Linked DNA regions of Homo sapiens. The protein of the gene in region 3 purifies or fractionates together with the protein of the main gene of each other region. This does not show direct contact. Each region holds a gene or a part of one and is shown on either strand. Other genes may lie near its edges.

Region 1 (7,028 bases), on a different chromosome or scaffold from region 3:
TTTTTAATGTTCTACGGGGGAAACCATTCACTTACATTTACACAACGTTATTGAGTATTTACCATATGGCAGGCACTGAGATGAGATTCTAGGAACTAAGGTGTGAATAAAACAGATGAAAATTATTTTCCTCATGGAGTTTATATTCTCATGGGGGTGGGCAGACAGTTTTTAAAAATGGAGTTCACGTTGTGATTTGTTAGATAGTGATAAGTACTATCTCAAAACAGCAAAGAAAATGCTAGGGATGGGTGTGGAGATGGATTTTAATTTTTTTTTAAAGTGATAAGGCATCCCTTAGAAGAAATAGCTTGAAGACTTGTTTTAATGGTCACCAAAATACTTTATAAACAGTAAATTCTCAATAAGTGGTGGTTCTAAATTCTTTATTGTTATGAAACTAGATTATTTAAGAGTGTTTCTGGTAAGGAAACTATTCCGATTTTGTGAAATAGACTTCCAGGTATGAAAAAGAGTTTTCCCATCTAAGTAAACTAAACTGACGTTCCAGGGACTAAAAGTAACCTTCAGAATGATATTGGCTTTTGTTAGGTTTTGAAAAAGCATTGTGTTACATAGATGTTAATACTCTCATACTTGGTCCACTTCACACATGTATCTTAAATCTGAGTCTCCTGCATGTTTAGTTTCTGTCTCTGATCTGTGGGATGTTTATAGTGAAGGACTGTTCATGTGGGCAACTTTGATGTGTACTAACCAGAAATGGTTGAGTTGTAGGTACTGAACACACTCATTCTTACCTATCATCTTTTTTGTCTCTTCTGCACTTGAACTTGTACCTTAGGAAACATAACTTAAGACTCTTGATACAAATACCTTTTTTTTAGTCATTTTTCTTCCCTAGATATGAAGGTGCAAAAGAACTGGAAAGTATTGCCCTTCCCTTTTACTGTATATGACATACCCTTTCATTTAAAAAATACTCTGACAAAATACAGTGCACTAGGCACTGGGTATTAAGATGAACAAAAACAAACAGGGTTCATTCATGTCTTCTTGGAGTTTAGAATCTAAGTTAGACTGATATATTTGAATATTTATCAAGATAGAAGATTTTATTCCATTAAATATCATTAGTTGTTTTCCTCATATTCTAATTTCAAGTAATGAAGAATAGTTTAAGAAGTTTATAAATCCTAAGCGCTAATATAATCTTTTAATGTTAGTGAGCAAATGTCATATAGGCTTCCTGTTAGAGGTCCTTGGAAGGAAAGGTAGACAAGGGACGGACGTGTCTAAGTGGCCTGGGAGTGTAGGGAGACAGAAAGCTGTGCGAAAGGCCGGACAAAGGGAGAAGAGTTCTGGATTTGAGAGTGTAGGAGTTTGCATTTTATGATCAAGAGAGTAGTTATTTTTTTACTACCCTTCACTTCTTCCATGTGCAGCATTTCCATTAATAATGACTCTTAGGGAGCCACACTGAAAGGAAGAGAATTGTGAAGGAAGAAAAGGGAGAGACTACTTAACACAGTCATTTAAGAGAAGTGAAAATACCTTGTTACAGTCTTATTCTTTGGATAAAGTATATGACCACCTTATGTAAAAGTGGGATGACTTGCATTACTTTTGTCTACCGAATGCCAGTTCTCTTGCTACCTTTGCTAACTCTTCTGGCCAAGTTTCCATTCATCTTTATTTCTCCATTTCCATAGTTACTTTAAAAAATATTTTGAGACATCTGTGGGCAGCTTGATACTCTTCTTGGTGTTCTCTATTCAGATATCAACAAAATAGTATTTTATTGACCATAGGCTGGTTTGGTAGTGTAGGTCTGTGTTGATATCTCTGAATAATAAAGTGATAAAGTTCTTAATACTGTAAGATGACGACATTTTCTCATAGTTCTCAATATGTTTGTTTTCTCTGTTCTTGTGTGCACTTCTCTTTAATGTTTTTGGGAGGGCTCTAGTGTGACTTGCTTAAATTTGAATCAGAAAAACTTTTTTTTTTAATCTTTATAGTATTTATATGTCCCTCTTCTCTATTCTTTTAACCCTTTTATAGCGGTTACGACTTTGGCTACTTAATCAAAATCCTAACCAACTCTAACTTGCCTGAAGAAGAACTTGACTTCTTTGAGATCCTTCGATTGTTTTTTCCTGTCATTTATGATGTGAAGTACCTCATGAAGAGCTGCAAAAATCTCAAAGTAAGGCTTCGGATGGCATTATCTACAGCAGCACACTGTTCAGACCAAGTGACTGTCATGCGAGCCTAGGCTGGGATGTTGTTTTAAACCATATTTTAAAGTATTACAGTGAATGCAATTATATTATCTGGTCATGTGATTTTTTTTCTTGCATACATAATTTGTAGGGAATCCTTTTTTCAGAGCTTCAGTATGTCTTGGCAGAAGGCAGAATTTTCAACACATTTCAGGCTTAGGTCCGGTTCTTGTCACTGCTTGCCAGATTGAAAATCACAAACCAAAACACAAATCTGAGGACATTGAGGCTCTCATATGCACGCCATTGTGAGTTGTTACTTTCTCCCAAGACGCATAGAATCTGTTCTTACAAGGTGGAATCTAAGGTGGCCAGCGATATGCAGATGTATTTAGTAGTGTGGCAAAAGTTTTTCTTTCCTTTTGGCTTATCTTGGCTAGAAATTATTTTGTCAGTTCTAGTGATAGGATAATGCTCCTAGGATTAAACTATATAGCTAAAAGATTTTTCTGTGGCCAAAAGATGTCAGCTTGTTACAGTTAAGTACTATGGGAAATGTGTAGGTCCTGCCTAGATAGTAGTAACATTTTGACGCTGCATAACATGTATTTTTAAATTCTAAACATTAATTCTTTTTTTGTTTTTGAGACGGAGCCTTGCTCTTGTCGCCCAGGCTGGAGTGCAGTGGCGTGGTCTCGGCTCACTGCAACCTCCGCCTCCCGGGTTCAAGTGATTCTCCTGCCTCAGCCTCCTGTGTAGCTGGAATTAACAGGTGTCCATCACCACACCCAGCTAAATTTCGTATTTTTAGTAGAGTCGGGGTTTTACCGTGTTGGTCACGCTGGTCTTAACAGATAACTGAAGATGAGAAGCTTTCTTTTGGCCAGTGTTTACCTTTAATACATGATATGGTCAGCATATGACTAGAGAAATTTTCAAGAAAGATTATTTTATGTTTGTAGCAGTAGACTTCTGTGTAATTTGAGGGGACTTCCAGGAAGTGAACTTGCAGTAGGGTATCCCTTGCTTGAGAAATTCAGCCCACCCTGTGAAAGCACTGCATGCTGAGGCCTACATGTTTTCATCTGACTTTTTTTTTAATTGACATGTCTGTATAATGATAGTTTTCAGGAACAGGGAACCAAATTATTGCTCATCATGTGGTTGTTACTGGGAAGTTTCTAAGTACAGATATTCTGAATGTGTCCTGAGTAAGCTGCTGTGTTAAAATTCAGGTTAACGACAAAGGTGCTTTTTGACCTATAGTCAGCCATGCTGTTCTATTCAGTTCTAGTTCTGTTCTCCTAAGCAGCTGCTAACGATACCTAATCCTCGTGCTATTTTTAGCGCAGAAGCAACTGCTGTGCAAAGCCTTGTTTCAAGCTGTGATGCACAGAAGGGCCATTTTGCCGGTGGAGGCCTTAACAAGTTAGAGAAGAATTTTTGTTTTGTTGTTGGTGTTTCTTTCCTTCACGCTCTACTTATTCTCCCCTCCCTTTACTCTCCTTGCCTGTCCTCCCACTTTCTTTCCTTCTGTTACTGTCTTTCTCTTTCTTTCTTTCCACTCTTTCCACTCTCATCTTTCTTTTTTAATCTTAGGAGTATTAACATAGGTGGATTATAGCAGACCACTCTAAGGAGTTGTGTGCATATACTCGTCTTAACTAAGAAAACCATAGTGAAGCATTTAGCATACTCTTAATGATTATTCATAATGGCTTTGTTTTGTAAAAATTAAGTGAAAACTACAAATGGATGGTGGGAAGTTTAAGAAAATATGAAAAAAATGGTGTTATACTAGCTTTTCAGTTTTATAATTATTACTGGATTGATAGACTATGAGTGTACTTGATAAATATTACCCTATATGTGGTCTGCTTCCTTCCCATATCTAGGAGAGTATTTACCTGTCATATGCCCTAAAACATGATGAAAATACATTTTCCCAATTAGGATCTTGTTTTCTATTAAATGATACTTTTTCCGCATTCAACAAATACATTAGTAATTCACATTCTCTGTTTCTTCCCCCCAATCTTTATAAGATTCACCTTTACATACTAAAGTTTATTTTTATTTTGGTCAGCGTCTAAGTTTATAATTTGTGAATTTAGGCCTTGTAAGATTTTTCTTCTTGACAAGCAATTTTTTATTTTTTCTAGGGTGGATTACAGGAGGTGGCAGAACAGTTAGAGCTGGAACGGATAGGACCACAACATCAGGCAGGATCTGATTCATTGCTCACAGGAATGGCCTTTTTCAAAATGAGAGAAGTATGAAGACATCACTGCCTTTTTCTCAGTTGGTTGTTAGGTTGAGAACATTAAAAATCTTGTGGCCAAAGATTTTGGGCAACAAGTACCTACTAAGTAAAGATATAATTAGAGATACCATATGAGTCACATCCACCACACTTAAAAGTATTCAAAAATAAGTCATCTTGAAATGTAGTTCAGAAGGAACTGGGAGAACATGTTCATCATAGAACCAACAATTTTAAAACATAAACTACCTGAGAAGTCATGTAGGTCCAACCATATTATTTCTCAGGTGAGAAAACAGGCTAATAACTTCCATGATTAAACACATTACTAGTGGGAGAACTCCAGAGTTCTTTTCTGACTCCCATTGGTGCTCCTCCTACAAGGCAAGGAATCTTTATATTAGGTTTATTCTAGCATGACCCCTTTTAAGGTTTAAACTGGTGATAAATATATTATTTGCTCATGTCATTCTTCAGTGCTTTGAAGATTTTATAGAGAAGAACTCAGGCTCTTTTACTGCATTGAGTCTTAAAAGGGGGGTTGAATTCCGAAGGGATCAAATAAATCCAACGTAGTAGTTGCATCAGAAACCATATTAGGAAAACCCTCCTTAAACGGCAAAAGGCAGAGATCAGTTCCTTGAGTATAAAGTGTTAGGGATGGAAGAATGAAACTAAATGAACCCATTATCTACTCCTAAGTAATTAAGTGATGTGCACAGATACACCTAGCTATAGGTAAACAGGAAAATTGGTTGTGCAAAAAACAAGTGAGGTTTTTCTTGACTATAAGTTTTCCCTTTTGGAAAAATTCGCTGTGGATTTGAGTATATTTTCTCTTAGACATTAAATTGAGACTGAGAATTTAAAACTTTTTGTAGCAATGTATTGATAATAGAAAGCATTAAAGCTGTTTTGCTAAGTAGTGTTGTTGATTCAGAAGTGATTTGGACTATCCATTCATGACACGTAAATATTTTGTTTTGGACTCCTTCCAATTGTTTCATTAGATAATTGAAACAACCTTTTGGATTTTTTAGCTTTGCATTTTAAAAATGTCTTAATGGTTTATTTAACTAAAGGTGGATTTCTGGCACTAATTTATCTTTATTTTTCTTGGCTTCTTCAAGGACAGTAATAGAGTGTGAATGTTTGGATTTTACTGTCCATGACTTTATGGTTTGATCATTTATAGCCAGCTCAGCCTTGCATACAGATTTAAGACAGTTTATGAACCTAAACTTTTTTTCCCCCACCATCATTGGCTTTCTTCATTCTTGAGTATTGTTAAATTAATGGAATAGTTATTTTTCCATGATGAAAAATTCTTATAAAAATGGTCTAAATGGAAAAGACATGCATTTATACACTTTTTTTGTAGTCTCTTTCTTTGGTTTCTGAGCTCTGTACTTTTGAGGACATTAGTCTTACTCATTGAACTGAAATGCGTAGCCTCAAAGGAACACCATAGAAAAGAGCCATCATTATTGTCAGTGAACAGTCAGTACTTACATTGCTGAAATATAAATTACAAGTGGTTCCTTTTGGTTAAAATTATCTTTTTTTTTTCTTCAAAATTCCTTTTTAGATGTTCTTTGAAGATCATATTGATGATGCCAAATATTGTGGTCATTTGTATGGCCTTGGTTCTGGTTCATCCTATGTACAGAATGGCACAGGGAATGCATATGAAGAGGAAGCCAACAAGCAGTCATGACATGAAATAGTCCTTTTATTTTTATTTCGAGCTACACACATGCTTGTATATAGGTTTTATCTCTGGTTGAATCCCTCGAACAATAGACAGTACCTTTCCCCCCCCTTTCATGGCCCATTTTATTGTCTGCCTTTCAGTACTAAGTATGACCGTTCCTATCTCAGATCTTAATAAAAAGAAAAAAAAAAACGCATTCAGGTTAAATTTGGCCTTAATTTAATATACTTGTTAGCAAGCGTGTGTGACAGAGAGTGGGGAAAGCTACATCATTGAATATTTTGATAAACTTTACCGACTTGAGTTTGGTTTATTTTTCCCTTTTCCTAAATTAACTAGCACTGACTGTAATTTATTTCCCTGTTTCACGTCTCTCCCTTCCATTCTGCAGGAGTTTTAGCTATTTGAGATCGTGGACCATCAGTTTTGCACTTTAGAGAGTGTTTCTGACTCTAAACCTGTTTTATCAGAAAATTTGTTTTTTCTTGATCTTAGCTGGAAAAATCTGCCAACTTTACACAGTATTTACTTGGTTTTGACCCACAGAATATAGCACGTTGTGCAAACTGTCGATTCAGCGAAACTTAAAAAAGACAAGAAACTACTGAGGAGCTTAGTAACTGCTGTTTCTGTACGTAGTGTTTAATCTTCCAAGCACATCTAGTGTCTGTCAGTTTCTAATTGGCATGTGTAGGCTGCTCTGTGACTGAAGAATTTTCAAACCAGCTTTACACCCTTCAGGAAAAATCCCTTGTGATTGGATGTTTACTATCTGCCAGGAAACTGGTACTCAAGATGTTGAAGCTACAGTTATTTTATGATAGCACACTTCCCTTGATCTGCTTATTTTTATTCCATCACCATT
Region 2 (7,236 bases), on a different chromosome or scaffold from region 3:
CAGATGTTAGTTTTCTGGTGCAGAGATGGTACTATAGAAGTCTATATCTGGTACAATCACTTAATGATCACACAGTAATACTATTATTCATCTTATTTTACATTATTTGGTATGGATATGTACATAAAAGAACATGAGTCTGACCATCAGGATACTTGGATCCTAAAATAATATTAGCTAGATGTGCAATTTTTATTATGTCATTTATTTATCTAAGGCTCAACTCATCTGTAAAGAGAGAGGTTTGTAGTAGATGCACCCTAAGATTGTTTTTCTGTGAAATTGGGTAACCACTGGTCTTGACAAGTTTAAAACGTAGTTGAATAATTCGAGTATATCCATAGGAAAATCGATGTAAAAGTATACAAGTAACTTAAAAACAAACACTATAAAAGGAAGAAAAATTCTGGTGATGTTAATTGGAAAGACCAAGATCAGACCATGAATAAGCAGAAGAAAGGTAAGTTTGGCCAGGCGTGGTGGCTCACACCTGTAATCCCAGCACTTTGGGAGGCCAAGGTGGGTGGACCACAAGGTCAGGAGTTCGAGACCAGCCTGGCCAACATGGTGAAACTCCATCTCTACTAAAAATACAAAAATTAGCTGGGCATGATGGCAGGTGCCTGTAGTCCCAGCTACTCGGGAGGCTGAGGCAGGAGAATAGCTTGAACCTGGGAGGCAGAGGTTGCAGTGAGCCGAGATCATGACACAGAACTCCAGCCTGGGCAACAGAGCGAGACTGTGTCTCAAAAAAAAAAACAAAAACAAAAAACAGCCAAAAACAAAAAGAAGAGAAGTAAGTTTGGAAATTAATTAAGAAAAGGGTAGAAATTCTTAGTAGGTAAAATCATGTATAGGATAAATATTTTGTTTATTTTCTCCTCCTCATAAAACAACTGATTATCCAAGACTACCAGTACATTTTTCCTTGCAGTCATATAACAATAATTTCATATTTTACCTATTTGTGTGACAGCTTAAAATCTTTCTAGAATACATAGGCTACGCAAATTTTAGAATTCCTTTTAATTGTACCAAGAGGGTGGTATTGGAAGATTACTGAAAAGATTATCAGAAATTATACATAATTGTGGGTTGTGTCACTATGGGAAACCACATGTATTGTATCACTAAGGTTACAATTATAAACACACTCTGACTCAAATTATTGCAAAACATTACCATATTTGGGTGAGGTTTCTAGAGGAAGAGAGCAGCCAATTAATCAAGCAATAATATTTGCTGAGTATCCACTGTATACAAAATACTAATATAGGTGTTGCTGAGTAAACAGGAAAAAAGACAGGAAAAAAAACAAAACCAGAAGTACTGCTGATGCAGCACAGGGTGGTGAATTGAATTTACAGGATGGGATAGTAATTGCCTTCATTAAGTTTTATTTGGTGGACAGTGCCCAGACTTAAGAGGAAGAAAGAAAAATCTTGCAGTGGAAAGAACATGAAATATAAAATAAGATGCCTAGGTTCCAATCCCAGCTCGGTCACTTAGGAGCTATGCAATCTTTTTCTTTCTTTCTTTCTTTCTTTCTTTCTTTCTTTCTTTCTTTCTTTCTTTTTTTTTTTTTTTTTAGATGGAGTTTTGCTCTTGTTGCCCAGGCAACCTCCGCCTCCTGGGTTCAAGTGATTCTCTTGCCTCAGCCTCCCAAGTAGCTGGGATTACAGGTGTGAGCCACCACGCCCAGCTAATTTTTGTATTTTTAGTAGAGACAGGGTTTCCTCATGTTGGCCAGGCTGGTCTCAAACTCCTGACCTCAGGTGATCTGCCCACCTCTGCCTCCCAAAGTGCTGGGATCTATGCAATCTTAAATCATTTAGCCTCATTTTTTTCTTCTGTAAAATGGGTATAATGGTACTGATAAGAACCTCACTTGAGGTTGCAGTGAGAAATCAATGAAGCAATGATTTGTAATCTATAAGAGTAAACATGTTAATTTTCATCCAGTGTTACCCTTGGTTAAACTATGTGGTTTATTCTCTTTATCTTCTTCACAACGTTTATCCTCGAAAGGACACCTGCTTTTTTCTGCATGTGTCAGCATGCTTCTCCTTCCTCTTCTCTCCCCAAATGAACCATCAGTTTTTCAATATCATAGCTTCTGTTTGCCGTCCATTCACAAAAAACAATGATTTGCACATTATGAACACCCAATAAATTACTTAATAATAAGGTCTTGCCTCTGAACATTTATTTGATACTCTCACATTTCATTTATGTGCAGCTGTCAGATTCATCTTGCTGCACATATTTCTGATCATGTCATGTCACTGTTCAAAAGTTCTCAACAGTTCCTCACGGAATCTGAACGCCTATCTTAAACCCTAAGGCCTTACCACTCAAAATGTGGTCTCCAGATCAGGAGCACTGGCATCAGCTGGGAGCCTGTTATTCTACAGGCTGTATTCTGGAGAATACAGATTCTCCAGTCTCATGCCACATCTATTGAATTAACAACTTCGTTTTCACAAGATTCCCAATTGATTCATATCTACGCAGCTTTGATTACATGTTTAATCTCTCATAAACTTCAAGCTTCAAAAGCAGGGTTGCTAGATTTAGCAAATAAAAGTAAAGGATGTCCAGTAAAATTTGAAAACAATGAGTAATTTTTTGGTTTAAGTATGTCTCCACTGCTTCATGGGACATACTTTTTAAAAGATTGCTTATCTGCAATTCACATTTGATTAAGTGTCCTATATTTAATATGGCAAACCTATTCAGGAGGGTAGGATCCATGTCTAACATAGCTTTGTATTCCCCTGGAATAGTACAGTGCCTTCCCCAACTGTTTTTGTTTTTTTTTGTTTTGCTTTTTGAGACAGAGTCTTGCTCTGTCACCCAGGCTGGAGTACAGTGGCGCGACCTCGGCTGACTGCAACCTCCGTCTCCCGGGTTGCAGGGACAGGGACAACCTCCGCCTCTCGGGTTGCAATGACTTCTGCAACTCTCCTGCCTCAGCCTCCCGAGTAGCTGGTATTACAGGTATGCGCCACCACGCCCCGGATAATTTTTGTATTTTTAGTAGAGACGGGGTTTCTTCATGTTGGCCAATCTGGTCACGAACTCCTGACCTCAGATGATCTGCCCACGGAGGCCTCCCAAATTGCTGGGATTACAGGCCTGAGCTACCGCGCCCGGCCCCAACTGTTCAATATATGTTTGTTTAATGAGTAGAAAATGAGCTTCTTGAGTATGGAAGTTTCTCTTTTTATTTCAACAGTTTTGGAATACAGGTGGATTTTTGGTAACATGGATAAGTCCTTTAGCGGTAACTTCTGAGATTTTAGTGCACCCATCACCTGAGCAGTGTACCCTGTACCCAATACGTAGTAATTTATCCCCTCCCCAGTCCCCAAAGTCCATTTTATCATTCTTATGCCTTTGAACCCACATAGCTTAGCTCCCACTTATAAGTGAGAACATAAAATATTTGGTTTCCCATTCCTGAGTTACTTCACTTAGAATAATGGCCTCCAGCTCCTTCCAAGTTGCTGCAAAAGGCATTATTTCGTTCCTTTTTATGGCTGAGTAGTATTCCATGGTGTATATACCCACATTTGCTCTATCCACTCATTGGTTGATGGACACTTAGGTTGGTTCCATCTCTTTGCAATTGCGAATTGTGCTGCTATGAACATGTATGTCTAGCTTGCTTTTTTCCCCCTCAACACTGTATCCCCAGAGACTAACACAGTGCCCCGCACCCCGTTAAAGAACCAAAAAATATTTGTTGGATGAATAAAGGAGTATATCAAGAGCAATCTTTCAATTATGGAGAGGGTCGTGATGTGTATTTTAATGAAAGCCAACTATCTTCTCTAATATTTGAAAAAACAATGTTTAAAAGGCTTCTATTTGTACACCTTTTCACATTTTAGCTGGCAGAGTTCAGGACTTGATGGAAACATAACGAAGGGCTCAGAATGTACTCATCGCAGACTGAGCCCATATGGTCACAGTGGGGAGAGCACGCTGCACTCAAGATGCTAGCAAGCCTGCAGCAGGCGGCCCAGCGAGACACGGTCCCCCGCCCGGCCACCAGGCGCCCGCGCACGCGCACAGCCGCGCTCAGTCCGCGAGGGCCGGGTCGAGGGAGGCGGGGCTCCCGGGGTGCGCGTGCGCGGCGGCCTGAGCGGCGGGCCCCTCCCTTAGCGGGGGCGCGCGGCGCTGAGGACCGCACGGAAACGGGGAAGTCAGGTGGCCGCTGCCGCCGCCGCCGCCGCGGTTTGTCGCCAGAAGGAAGATGGCGGATCTGGAGGAGCAGTTGTCTGATGAAGAGAAGGTAAGAGTCGCGGGGGCGACGGCGCGGGCTGTCAGGAGCCGGCTCAGCCCGGGCGGGTGGGCCCGGAGTCTGGTCGCGGGGGAAGGGCATTGGCCCGCAGCTGGCCTTGCCCTCGGCTGCCCTTCCTCCCCCATCCTTACTGCGCCCAGTGCCTGCCCCTGTCCGTCACCCGAGGCCCCGCGCGGGGGCAGGTCTCTGCCAGGCCTGCTCGCTCCGCTCCTTGTAGGGTGTGTACTCCGAAAATAGGAAGCGGGAGCCGGGCGACGGCGGGCGGGGGCGCGGGCGCGGGGGAGGGCGGCGGCTGCCCAGGACCCTCTCCTGCTGTCGGGCCGCGGGGCCTCCGCCGGGGCCGGGGACCGGGGACCAGGGACGCAAAGGGGTTTGCGTCCGTGCGTGGGAGCGGCCCAAGGGCAGTGCCCAGCGCGGCGGCCTGGCCTGTGAGTGTAGCGGCGGGTGAGGGGAAGGGAAAAATCGCTTAGGAAGCAGACCTTCACTTCTCCCTTCTACTTCCCCCTCCTCAAAGCAAAATGCTTCCTTTTCTGATCCTCTACGGTTTATCCTTTTTTTTCCCTTTCCCCATGGAGGCATCTCTCCCTCCTTCTCTCTTTCCTTTCGTGGCTCTAGCAGTAAGCTTGCAGCTCCCATGTTCCCCAGGAGGCAGCGGAGTTGCTCACAAAAAGACGACCCCCTCCCCATAGTTGTTTTCTGCCCACGTTGGCAGCAGCCCCCCCCCGGGGGTCGATTTGGTGGCACCTCACTTTCCTGCTAGGACTTCTTCCGAAGAGGGGAAAATGTGCAACTCCTTTTACTGTATATTAGATGCTGTGACAGCAATGGAACCAGATGAACGACTTAAGTTCTCAGATATTTAAAACGAGTAATGGAATAATTCATTGAACTGCTGCTCTCTTAATTCGCCCCTTTCGTTTGGCTTTTGGGAACGTCCCATTCCCGAGGGTGGTGGGGTAGGGGAGAACCCTGCTAATTTTGACTGTTTCTCGGAAAGGACCCTTAGAAGTAACTGACAGAACATAGGAATGAGTTAGTTGCAGGGTTGGAAATGTCCACTCTTCGTTAAAGAGTGCTTCATTTTTAAATTTCAAAGCCAGTGCAGGAAAATACAGGTACATTTAGGTATGTTGTGGTGTTTAAGAAATCTTCATGTAAGTCTGAGGATATTTTCATTTAGGACCCTCTGCTCTAGATGTTTTTATATGCTGTGTTCTTGCACCGAAATAGAAGGTTCTGTCCCATTCCCAATGTGAATGGTCAGAAGTCAGCCTCATCTTTATTTTCGGAAATCTTTTTTTCTCTTGTGTTCTTCGGTGAAAGTGATAATACAACAACAAAATGGGGGCGAGCAACGTCTCCATAGCCCACAGACCCAGTAGGCAGATCCCCGTATCCACAAAAGTTGCTGTACAGTATTCAATGTATAATCTTGATAAATAATCCTATTTTATTTAGGTGACTGAAAGTGTACAGGAGTGCACAAACATATTTAAAATTGAGGCGTGCTAAAAAGCTTAAAAAGAGATTGTCGTGTTTTTATTCTACCATTCTTAAGTGATGATTAGTAGCTCAAGTGGCTAGAAATCTAGCTGAAGAGAGACTACTCGGTGTGGGAGTTAATATAGACCTGCCATGTGTTGTAAAGGCCTAAAATAAAAAAGTTTTTTAAAAATGAGATAACAAGATGCCTTATTATCTGGCACTCTCAGGGCACTAAGCTTCATAAAGAGGAATGAGGAGGTTGTGTGTCTTAAAGCCTGTGCCGCCTAGTAGCAAAATGTTTTATGGTTAAATGAATGAAAATTCTAATTTGATTTTTGATGTTTTGTAAGAATATTATGTAGATATTTTACATATAAATTTTATCACTATATTTACTAATTTAAAAACTGACAAAACCTTTAGGTTAAATTCAAGTAACCAGTAAAGTGAAATTTTAACGTTCTTGTCACTTGAGATATCTAAAGGTTATTTTCATTTTGGGGGAGGAGGATGTGTCCAGTATGGGATCAGAAAACAGAGAGGACTTAAAAGTGATATTTTAATATTACTCGTTCTACTGCCTTATTGGTAATTTTCAAAAATAAGCTCTTAAGCTGGGCACGGTGGTTTGCACCTGTAATGCCAACTACTCTGGATGCCAAGGTGTGGAGGATCGCTTGAGCCCAGGAGTTGTAGACCAGCCTGGTAACATAGCGAGACCTCATCTCTAAAAAAAAATATTAAGTTTTGAATACTTTTAAGTTTTTGAAATTTCCATTCTAGATTGCAAATTTAAGGAAGAGAAGCTGTTAAGATGTGTCTAGTACCATACTTTATATATGCTTGGCTCAGTTAGATACATTCATTACTTAATTTGTTGTTGTAAGAGGTAGTTCTATTACCATTTCACAGATGAGTAGAGTGAGGTTCAAAAGCTTTAAGTAGTTCACCCAAGGACGGTCAAGATGAAGGTAGTATTTAAAGTTTGTCTTAGTCCAACGTTGATGTTCTTGTGACATTATGCGCTCTCTTCTTTTTTTTTTTTTTTTTTTTTTTTTTGATACAGAGTCCCACTCTGTCACGCAGGCTGGAGTGCAGTGGTGCAATCTTGGCTCACTGCAACCTCTGCCTCCGGGGCTGAAGCGATTCTTCTGCCTCAGCCTCCCGAGTAGCTGGGATAACTGGCACATGCCACCATGCCCAGCTAATTTTTGTATTTTTAGTAGAGACGGGGTTTCGCTATGTTGCCCAGGCTGGTCTTGAACTCCTGACCTCAGGTGATCCACCCCCCTCGGCCTCCCAAAGTGCTGGGATTACAGGCGTGAGCCACCATGCCCAGCAGACATTATGCTTTCTTAAACAAAATTGATAAGAACCTCTTCTGGTTTTGTCTCTTCATTTTTAATTTGTTGACAGCTTATTTTGAAAAAGGAGAAACGTTG
Region 3 (7,687 bases):
TTTCATAAGTTCATATTACTGCGGAGTCTGGGGATTTAATTGGCTTCAGACACTACTGGATTCAGGCGCTCAAATCTATTTCTTCCGATTTCCTTAATTAAAAATAGGTTTACCCCATGGGGTGCCCAGTGACTCTCAGAAGCTCAGGGCAGGCTTAATCCTACTGGTTTAAAACAACACCAGAAGTGCCTCTTTTGGTGAACAGCATAGTGAACACAGTGGTTACCTGCCCCTTTCTAGCCTGAGTTATTAGAATGGGCTGGGGTCTGATGGGCCAGAAATAGGCCAAGTGCCCACCCTTAGAGCCTGTGGTTGGGGTAAGCCCTTCCTGAGTGGGGGCAAGGTGGTTCCCAACAGAAAATTGGGACTCTGCTCTCTTAATCCAGAAGGATTGTAAAAGAATGTCGGGCAGCAAAAAAAACACCCAACAGGAGTCCTCTAGTTCAGCCTGCCACATGCTTATGAAGGTTTATGAAGGTTTAATGAGCAAATACTTGTGAAAGTGCCTTGAAGACTGTCCAGCAGCATACAGGTGTAAGGTAGTTGCATTGTTTGAGGAGTTTCACATATATCAGACAAGACTGTCAATTACAGGGGTAGGCACTGGGTTGGACTGAAGTTGGTTTTCCTCTTTTTGTAGTAACTGATTATCTTTTCATCAGAAGACTGTAGGGGCCAATCCTTTTGTAGTTCATAAACATAATGGTTGGGTGTTACGTGCGTGTGTGAAATGTGCCACCCTCCAGCCTTGTTACGATGTTGACACATTACCCATCTGACATGGAAAAAAAAAGAAGACAAAAAAGACTATAGGGTAGATTAAGGTGATTACTCCGAGGGAAGTGGTGAAGTGGATTTGGGCCATGTTCCAGGCATGAATGAGGCAGTGTTTCTGCCAGTGGTGTCCTGGGGATGGACTAGGACCTGGTTTGGCCATGCCCAGGGAGATCCGCTGAAGCTCATTGATTTGTTTTTCATTCATTAATTCCAATCAAGTAACCAATTGCTGTGGCTGGGTCTGGAGAGGGCATGGCTGAAGCCACCACAGTGAATGGGAGAAAGCAGTGTTGGGGATTGGTGGTGGATACTGTCCTCTGGTCTTCCTCCCTTGCCCCTTTTGGGTGGGTATCTTTGGATTTGTCTTCCTCCTGTCCTGAGGCCGTGGGGTCCTGTCTTCCCTCCTCAAGTCTAAGCCTGGCTTGTTCTCTGGCAGGTTTGACAGCAACGCCTCTGCCAGCTCCTCCAGTAATGAGGGTGACAGTGACCGGGATGAGAAGAAGCGGAAACAGCTCAAAAAGGCCAAGATGGCCAAGGACCGCAAGAGCCGCAAGAAGCCTGTGGAGGTGCAGACTGTAGATGGGAGGGCCTGTGTGTGGTGCAGTGGGTGGGGGGCGTGGGAGGCATTCTCTTTACCTTCTCCTGTCCACCACCAGTAGGACCTGTTCTTCCTTGGGGCTGTTTTTTATAGCCAGTGATTATAGCCTTGAGGGTTATCTTCTTGGAAATTTTTCTCACTAGCCCTGAGATTAATAAGCTTCTGGAAGGTCTGAATTAGGAGATGGGCTTCTGTCCTGGTAAGCTAGGCACTGAATTGCAGAGGGGAAGGAGATACTATCCTTGCCCTTAGGGAGCTCTCGTCTCGCCTGATGCTATTTAGTCCTCCACTTTTTCTCCAAGTTAAGTGATCTAAATAATTTATTTGGGAAAATGTATGGGTTCTGTGGGAAATAGCTGAAGGCATTTGGGTTCTTATGTAGGTGAAGAAGGGCAAAGACCCCAATGCCCCCAAGAGGCCCATGTCTGCATACATGCTGTGGCTCAATGCCAGCCGAGAGAAGATCAAGTCAGACCATCCTGGCATCAGCATCACGGATCTTTCCAAGAAGGCAGGCGAGATCTGGAAGGGAATGTCCAAAGAGAAGAAAGAGGTGAGTAGCAGCAGAGGAGGGGTGATGCCTCTCATGGGCTGGCGAGAGGTGCTGTCTTGGGGTGGCGAGTCTCATGACTGATAGGGGAGCAGTATGAGCCATTGGTGGGACTTTCTGTATCGATTTTGCCTGCATCAGGGGAGAGGGGAGATGGGAGAGGTCTTATTCTTAACTGTTTTTTTCTGTGTGTGAGACAGGAGTGGGATCGCAAGGCTGAGGATGCCAGGAGGGACTATGAAAAAGCCATGAAAGAATATGAAGGGGGCCGAGGCGAGTCTTCTAAGAGGTGAGTGTCGAGAACATGGCCCAGTCACTGATTTTTGTGGCAGACTTTTTTTTTTTTAACAGGCCGAAGTTGAGCATTGGAAAGTTAAAGACAGCAGAGATGCTTCTGACTGCAGTAGGGTAGTGCTTCTCAAACCTGGGTAGGCCATTGCCCAAGTATGGGTGACACAATAGGGCATTCAAGTCACTGGGGAAATATGGCCTCTTTTCCTGGACCATTTTATTTGAAGGTATGGGGGAACGAAAAAAATACTATTATGGAGTGCAGTGCACAGTTTGCATGAACTCTAAAAGATAAAGCAAGAAATATCAAGTAGGTTTTGCACATTGGGCTGCTTTAGGCTGTGCCCTCTGATTCTTCTGGTGTACTCATGATACTCTCCCTTGGTGCCCTCCAGGCTGACGCAGCTATTTACGTTCAGAGTGAAATGGGCTGTGTGGCTGGGATTGGGAAAGGCCTTGTTAAAGCTGGGAGAGGTTTGGTCATGGTGACAGGGGACCTGAAGGCCCAGCTCCTCTTCCCTCTTGCCAATACAGGGACAAGTCAAAGAAGAAGAAGAAAGTAAAGGTAAAGATGGAAAAGAAATCCACGCCCTCTAGGGGCTCATCATCCAAGTCGTCCTCAAGGCAGCTAAGCGAGAGCTTCAAGAGCAAAGAGTTTGTGTCTAGTGATGAGAGCTCTTCGGGAGAGAACAAGAGCAAAAAGAAGAGGAGGAGGAGCGAGGTGCGGCAGGAATGTGGGGCCTGTGGGCTGGGCAGGGTGAGGGGCATGTGTGTCTGTGTGGGGTTGGTCTGTAAGAGTAATGAGTTGGAGTGGATGGTGGAATTCTGAGGTTCTGAAGGGGGGTGCTGTAGTTGGGGGCGGTAGGGAATTGCGGGCCCTTCACTGAAGAGTGGGTGGGGCACCCAGGACTCCAGCTTTTCCCTTAAGACACCTTTGGTTTTCAGGACTCTGAAGAAGAAGAACTAGCCAGTACTCCCCCCAGCTCAGAGGACTCAGCGTCAGGATCCGATGAGTAGAAACGGAGGAAGGTTCTCTTTGCGCTTGCCTTCTCACACCCCCCGACTCCCCACCCATATTTTGGTACCAGTTTCTCCTCATGAAATGCAGTCCCTGGATTCTGTGCCATCTGAACATGCTCTCCTGTTGGTGTGTATGTCACTAGGGCAGTGGGGAGACGTCTTAACTCTGCTGCTTCCCAAGGATGGCTGTTTATAATTTGGGGAGAGATAGGGTGGGAGGCAGGGCAATGCAGGATCCAAATCCTCATCTTACTTTCCCGACCTTAAGGATGTAGCTGCTGCTTGTCCTGTTCAAGTTGCTGGAGCAGGGGTCATGTGAGGCCAGGCCTGTAGCTCCTACCTGGGGCCTATTTCTACTTTCATTTTGTATTTCTGGTCTGTGAAAATGATTTAATAAAGGGAACTGACTTTGGAAACCATGTCCTCATGCTTTCTTTGTAGCCTTGGTGTGTTGCTCCCACTTTTATTGGTGGTGTTTACTGCTCTGGTCAGACTGGGCAGGGCCTTCCTGGCCAGCCGGGAAGCAAGTCTCGAGGTACATCCTGTTCTGTTCCCGGCTGGACGAGCATTGGTTTTCACCCGCCTCTGCCCGGATGGGCCACCTGAGAGTCTAGAAATGAGAGCTGATCTGATTAGGAAGTTTCTCCCAGTTACACTCCATTAGCCAACCAAGCTAGGGGGAGGCAGCTCTTGGCTGCATCCTTACCTATGAGTCAAGGGTCTTCCAAGGCTTTCGATAATGAAATCAGGATTGACTGTCCTTCCCGCAGCCGGGGGAGTGGAAACCTGAGCCTGGAGAGTCGGGGAGGATGAGCGTGTGCGTAGAGTGGTGGTGGTTGCAGCCTGGTGGTGGTGCAACAAAGTACGGAGTTATATGTGAAGCTTTTGTTCTTACGGGAAGAAGGGGGTATACAAACTTCAGTGTAGGGAGGAACCCATGTCTGAGAAGGGGCCTAAAAGGAGATAAAGGTCACTAATGAGGAATGCAGAGCTGCCAGACTTCTTCACGGTGGCTCTAAATCTGAATTGACACAGGAGGGTGGCCACGTTGCGCGCGTTCTCAGCACTCAGGTGGTTGTATCAGGAAGCCGCTTCAGTCAGCCGGCGGCTACCTTCTTGCCGGCGTAGCTCGATGATACTGTGCTCTGTGCAGGCGGCGGAGCCCGGGAGGGGCCGCCAAGGCAGTTTCTCTAGGCAGTCGTCTCGGTGGCCATTTTACCCGAGCGCTCCCGGCTGAATTGCGTCAGTTTCGCCCCGGTCTGAGACTGGGGCGGGCCCCTCATCTGCAAGCCTCATGAATAATTGAGTGCTGGGCCGCGCCTGTTTGCCGACGGTGGGACGAATTCTGCACGGGCTTCCCACTCCCGGGTTCCAACCGGCTCATGCATATTCATGAAGCGCCCTGGGGGCGTGGACCTGGGCGGAGTTGGGGCGGGGCCCCGCCGGGGCTCGCAGTGGCTTCGTCCCGCGGTGACGGCGGCGGCGGCGGCGGTAGCAGCGGCGGCGGCGGCGGGGACTGGCATCGGGGCCCCGAGCCGAGCGGAGCCGGACCCCGGGCGAGCGCGTGAGTGCGCGGGGGCGGTCGGGCGAAGGAGGGGGCGGGGTCCGGGATGGGGCGGGGGAGGGGCATGGAAGGAGTGGGTGCTTTCCAGCCGACACCTCGGGTTGAGGTGGTGGTGGTCGGGGGGTCACCAGGAAAGTTTGCAGGGGCCGAGGGCGCTGGGGACGCTGGAGGCCCGGGGGAAGGTGGCGCGTGTGCGCGGAGGCGGAGGGCGCATGGCTTGGAGCTCGTGCTGGCAGAGCCAGAAGAAAGGGGGGAGGGGGCGAGGGCTTGGGGCGGGGCCGGGGGCGGGCAGAGCCGCTGGAGGGACCCCTGCCTCCCCTTCCTCCGGGCCGCGCTAGCCCCCTCCCCCGGCTCCTTCGGCACGCCCCCAGCCACCCCAGTCCGCCCCCACCTGATCGACGTCTGCAGCCCACCGTCTGTTCGCCGGCTGCTTCACAGCCCGCTCACAGGTCCTCCGCTTCTGCCGCCACCGCAGCCCCCTCCTCCTCCTCCTCTTCGGCTGCCGCCGTCCCTTCTGTGTCCAGAGCTCCCCACTGGGCCCCTCCAGACAGCCCATTGCCCGGGGCTGTTCCATCTTCCCGTTGGCCCTCCCTCTTTCCAGCAGTTTACGTGCTGTCCCTGCCGACCTCTCTAGCCTCGGATCCGGCTGGAGATCCTGGGGTCCATAGGGGCGACCCCGCCTGCGCCGAGTCCCCTCCGGGGCTGGAGCTGCCCAGCCCTTCTGGAGGCCTTATCTGCCAGGGGTCAGCTCGTTTCTACCCTGCTACCCTCTACCCCCTGGTCTCTTGAGGGTGGGGAGTGCTCAGAACCGCTGCGAATCGCAGCTTCTGGCCACAGCCTTGGTGGCCTTGGTCACCTGGGGCCCCTGGCTGGGGTCTCTGAGTTGCTGTGGCCACCTCCGCACCTGGGGACTCTGAGCCCGCCTTCATTGCTGCAGCCCCTCATACCGCAGAGGGGCCCATCAGAACCCCAGGTGAAAGGATTTTTTTGGTTCTGAGCCAATTAATTTCCATCTCCAACCACCCACACTATGTTCCTAGTAATAATGTTCAAGGACAAGGAAACAATCTTGTGTTTTAATTTTATTTTTTCTATCATGTGCCCCTCCCCCCACCACACTTGGCCTGGCTCTGCACAGTTATTCACCCACCCACAGTGGGCAGTCTTCCGTGGTGGTTAACTGACCAATGGGTTGACAGTACTGGGTTTCTCTACTGTCTTCATACCCTCTCCCATCTTTGAAACACCTGGGGCAGGGTCAGCGTTAGGGGAGGGGTGTTGGATTTTGCAGAGGATGAGCACTGGGGGTCCCTTTTAAGGATTTGGTGCTGTCTTCCCAGACCAGCTGGAGTGGGTGACTTTAAGTGAGGCAATGCCCCTTGCAGGTTGGAGAAGTTTGGGTTGTCCTCAGGGCTCTGCATACCAGGTGAGGGAAACTTCCGCCTTGCATGAGAGGTGCAGGGCCCTATCCCCCAGGGTCTCCATGTTTTTGTGGGTGGGAGAGTGCTTCAGGAGTCAGGATGGGAACTGAGGAGGTGGTTGGAGTATCTGAAGAACAGGTGACAGGACTAGGGCCTGGGAGAGTGAAGGAATGGTCTGGGAATGCTGGTAGCCTGGGGTCAGGGAAGAGGAGGAGGTGGTTATCAGGGATGTTAGCTCATTGGTGACACTGAATGGAATCACAGTAATAATAGGCAACATTTGTTGAACACTTATTATGTGCTAGGCATTGTGCTAAGCCTATTTCATGTACTATTTCATGTAAGCCCCCTCAGGGTCTCAATAATCCCATTTTTCAGTTGGAGAAACTGAGGCTTGGAGAAGTCACAGGGCTAGAAAGTGGTAGACCCACCCAGCACTGAATCTTGGTATATCAGATCCTGAAGCTCATGTGACAGGCTTCTACCACCAGGCTGTGCCTCTTGGTTTAATTTCTTCTGTCCCCCTCAGAACTCCTTAAAGCCAACCCTAGGCTGGTGAGTGAAGCCCACATAACCCCTTTTCATACATAGGCTGTGGCTGCTCCACCCTGACTGTCGTGGAAGGTGGAGCCCCAGGGAATTTTCCCCCAAGTCACTCCACCCCCCGGATGTTCTCAAGCCCTGTCCCGTTCTCCCAGCCCAGGCCTGGGCCGGCTCCTCCTTCCTCTTGGCTAGGCCCTGGAAATCCAGTGGGAGGCCATTGCTATGGCAACAGGACTAGGCCCTGGCTTTACCTCATCAAATTCCAAGCTGAAGCCAAGCGATTGAGAAATTAAAGAAAAAAATATATTCCAGATGTTTACTTTTTATTCCTTATTTTTCCGTGTTTGGATGAGACAGTTCTGAGGGAGGGGAGAGAGTGGGGCAGGGATGTGGAAGGAGAACAGGGAGAGGGGGGAGAAGGAACCACTCCCAGCTGCGGGAGGGAGGGAGAGAGGGAAGGAGGGTGAGTGGGAAGGGGGAGGCAGGCAGTGGGGCGGAGCCCAGGTTGGGGAGGAGCGGGTTTTTCCCGTCTCCCGTGAGGTGATTCACAGACAGACTTCATACTTTGCAGCTCTCTAGCTCTGCTTTGAGTAGACACCTCCAGCGGGGCCGTCCTACCCAAGGGGCACTGTGGGGACTGTAAGTGGGGTGTCTTGGAGAGCTTGTCAGAGGAGGGAGCAGTGAGTGACTCCCTGAAGCGCTAGGACTTTGGGGTTAGGAGATAAGAGTTGGGGAGGATCTTTGAAGAGTTGAGGATATGGCTGTTGGGAACCTCCCTTGACCTCCTCCTACCCCCCCCCCCCCACTCCAAGTTCTCTCTTCCTGTCCCACACTCTGCCTCTGTTAGAAATAGGAGACTTCTCTCTGCTAAACCTACTGGCAACGCCCAACTCTTTTTTTCCTTCTCTTCTCTCTCTTTTCCT

Evidence for each region. The genes of interacting proteins can lie anywhere in the genome.
Region 1: the proteins of TNKS1BP1 (region 3) and CNOT7 purify together in Homo sapiens (affinity purification with mass spectrometry; 6 studies listed by BioGRID and IntAct, with this or other methods). This does not show direct contact.
Region 2: the proteins of TNKS1BP1 (region 3) and CAPZA2 purify together in Homo sapiens (affinity purification with mass spectrometry; 6 studies listed by BioGRID and IntAct, with this or other methods). This does not show direct contact.

The regions. Positions count from the first base shown.
Region 1 is NC_000008.11:17,229,858-17,236,885, reverse strand, and holds part of CNOT7 (CCR4-NOT transcription complex subunit 7), read left to right. Parts: intron 1-2,025; coding exon 2,026-2,170; intron 2,171-4,348; coding exon 4,349-4,459; coding exon of another isoform or gene 4,460-4,465; exon of another isoform or gene 4,466-5,374; intron 5,375-6,037; coding exon 6,038-6,166; 3' UTR 6,167-6,709; coding exon of another isoform or gene 6,710-6,751; 3' UTR 6,752-7,028. UniProt on the Homo sapiens protein: Has 3'-5' poly(A) exoribonuclease activity for synthetic poly(A) RNA substrate. Its function seems to be partially redundant with that of CNOT8.
Region 2 is NC_000007.14:116,858,351-116,865,586, forward strand, and holds the start of CAPZA2 (F-actin-capping protein subunit alpha-2), read left to right. Parts: upstream 1-4,236; 5' UTR 4,237-4,261; coding exon 4,262-4,300; intron 4,301-7,236. UniProt on the Homo sapiens protein: F-actin-capping proteins bind in a Ca(2+)-independent manner to the fast growing ends of actin filaments (barbed end) thereby blocking the exchange of subunits at these ends.
Region 3 is NC_000011.10:57,321,953-57,329,639, reverse strand, and holds the start of TNKS1BP1 (182 kDa tankyrase-1-binding protein), read left to right. Parts: upstream 1-4,687; 5' UTR 4,688-4,800; intron 4,801-7,311; exon of another isoform or gene 7,312-7,403; intron 7,404-7,687. Other genes in the region: FACT complex subunit SSRP1, read left to right, coding at 1,214-1,343, 1,758-1,928, 2,126-2,214, 2,751-2,937, 3,162-3,233.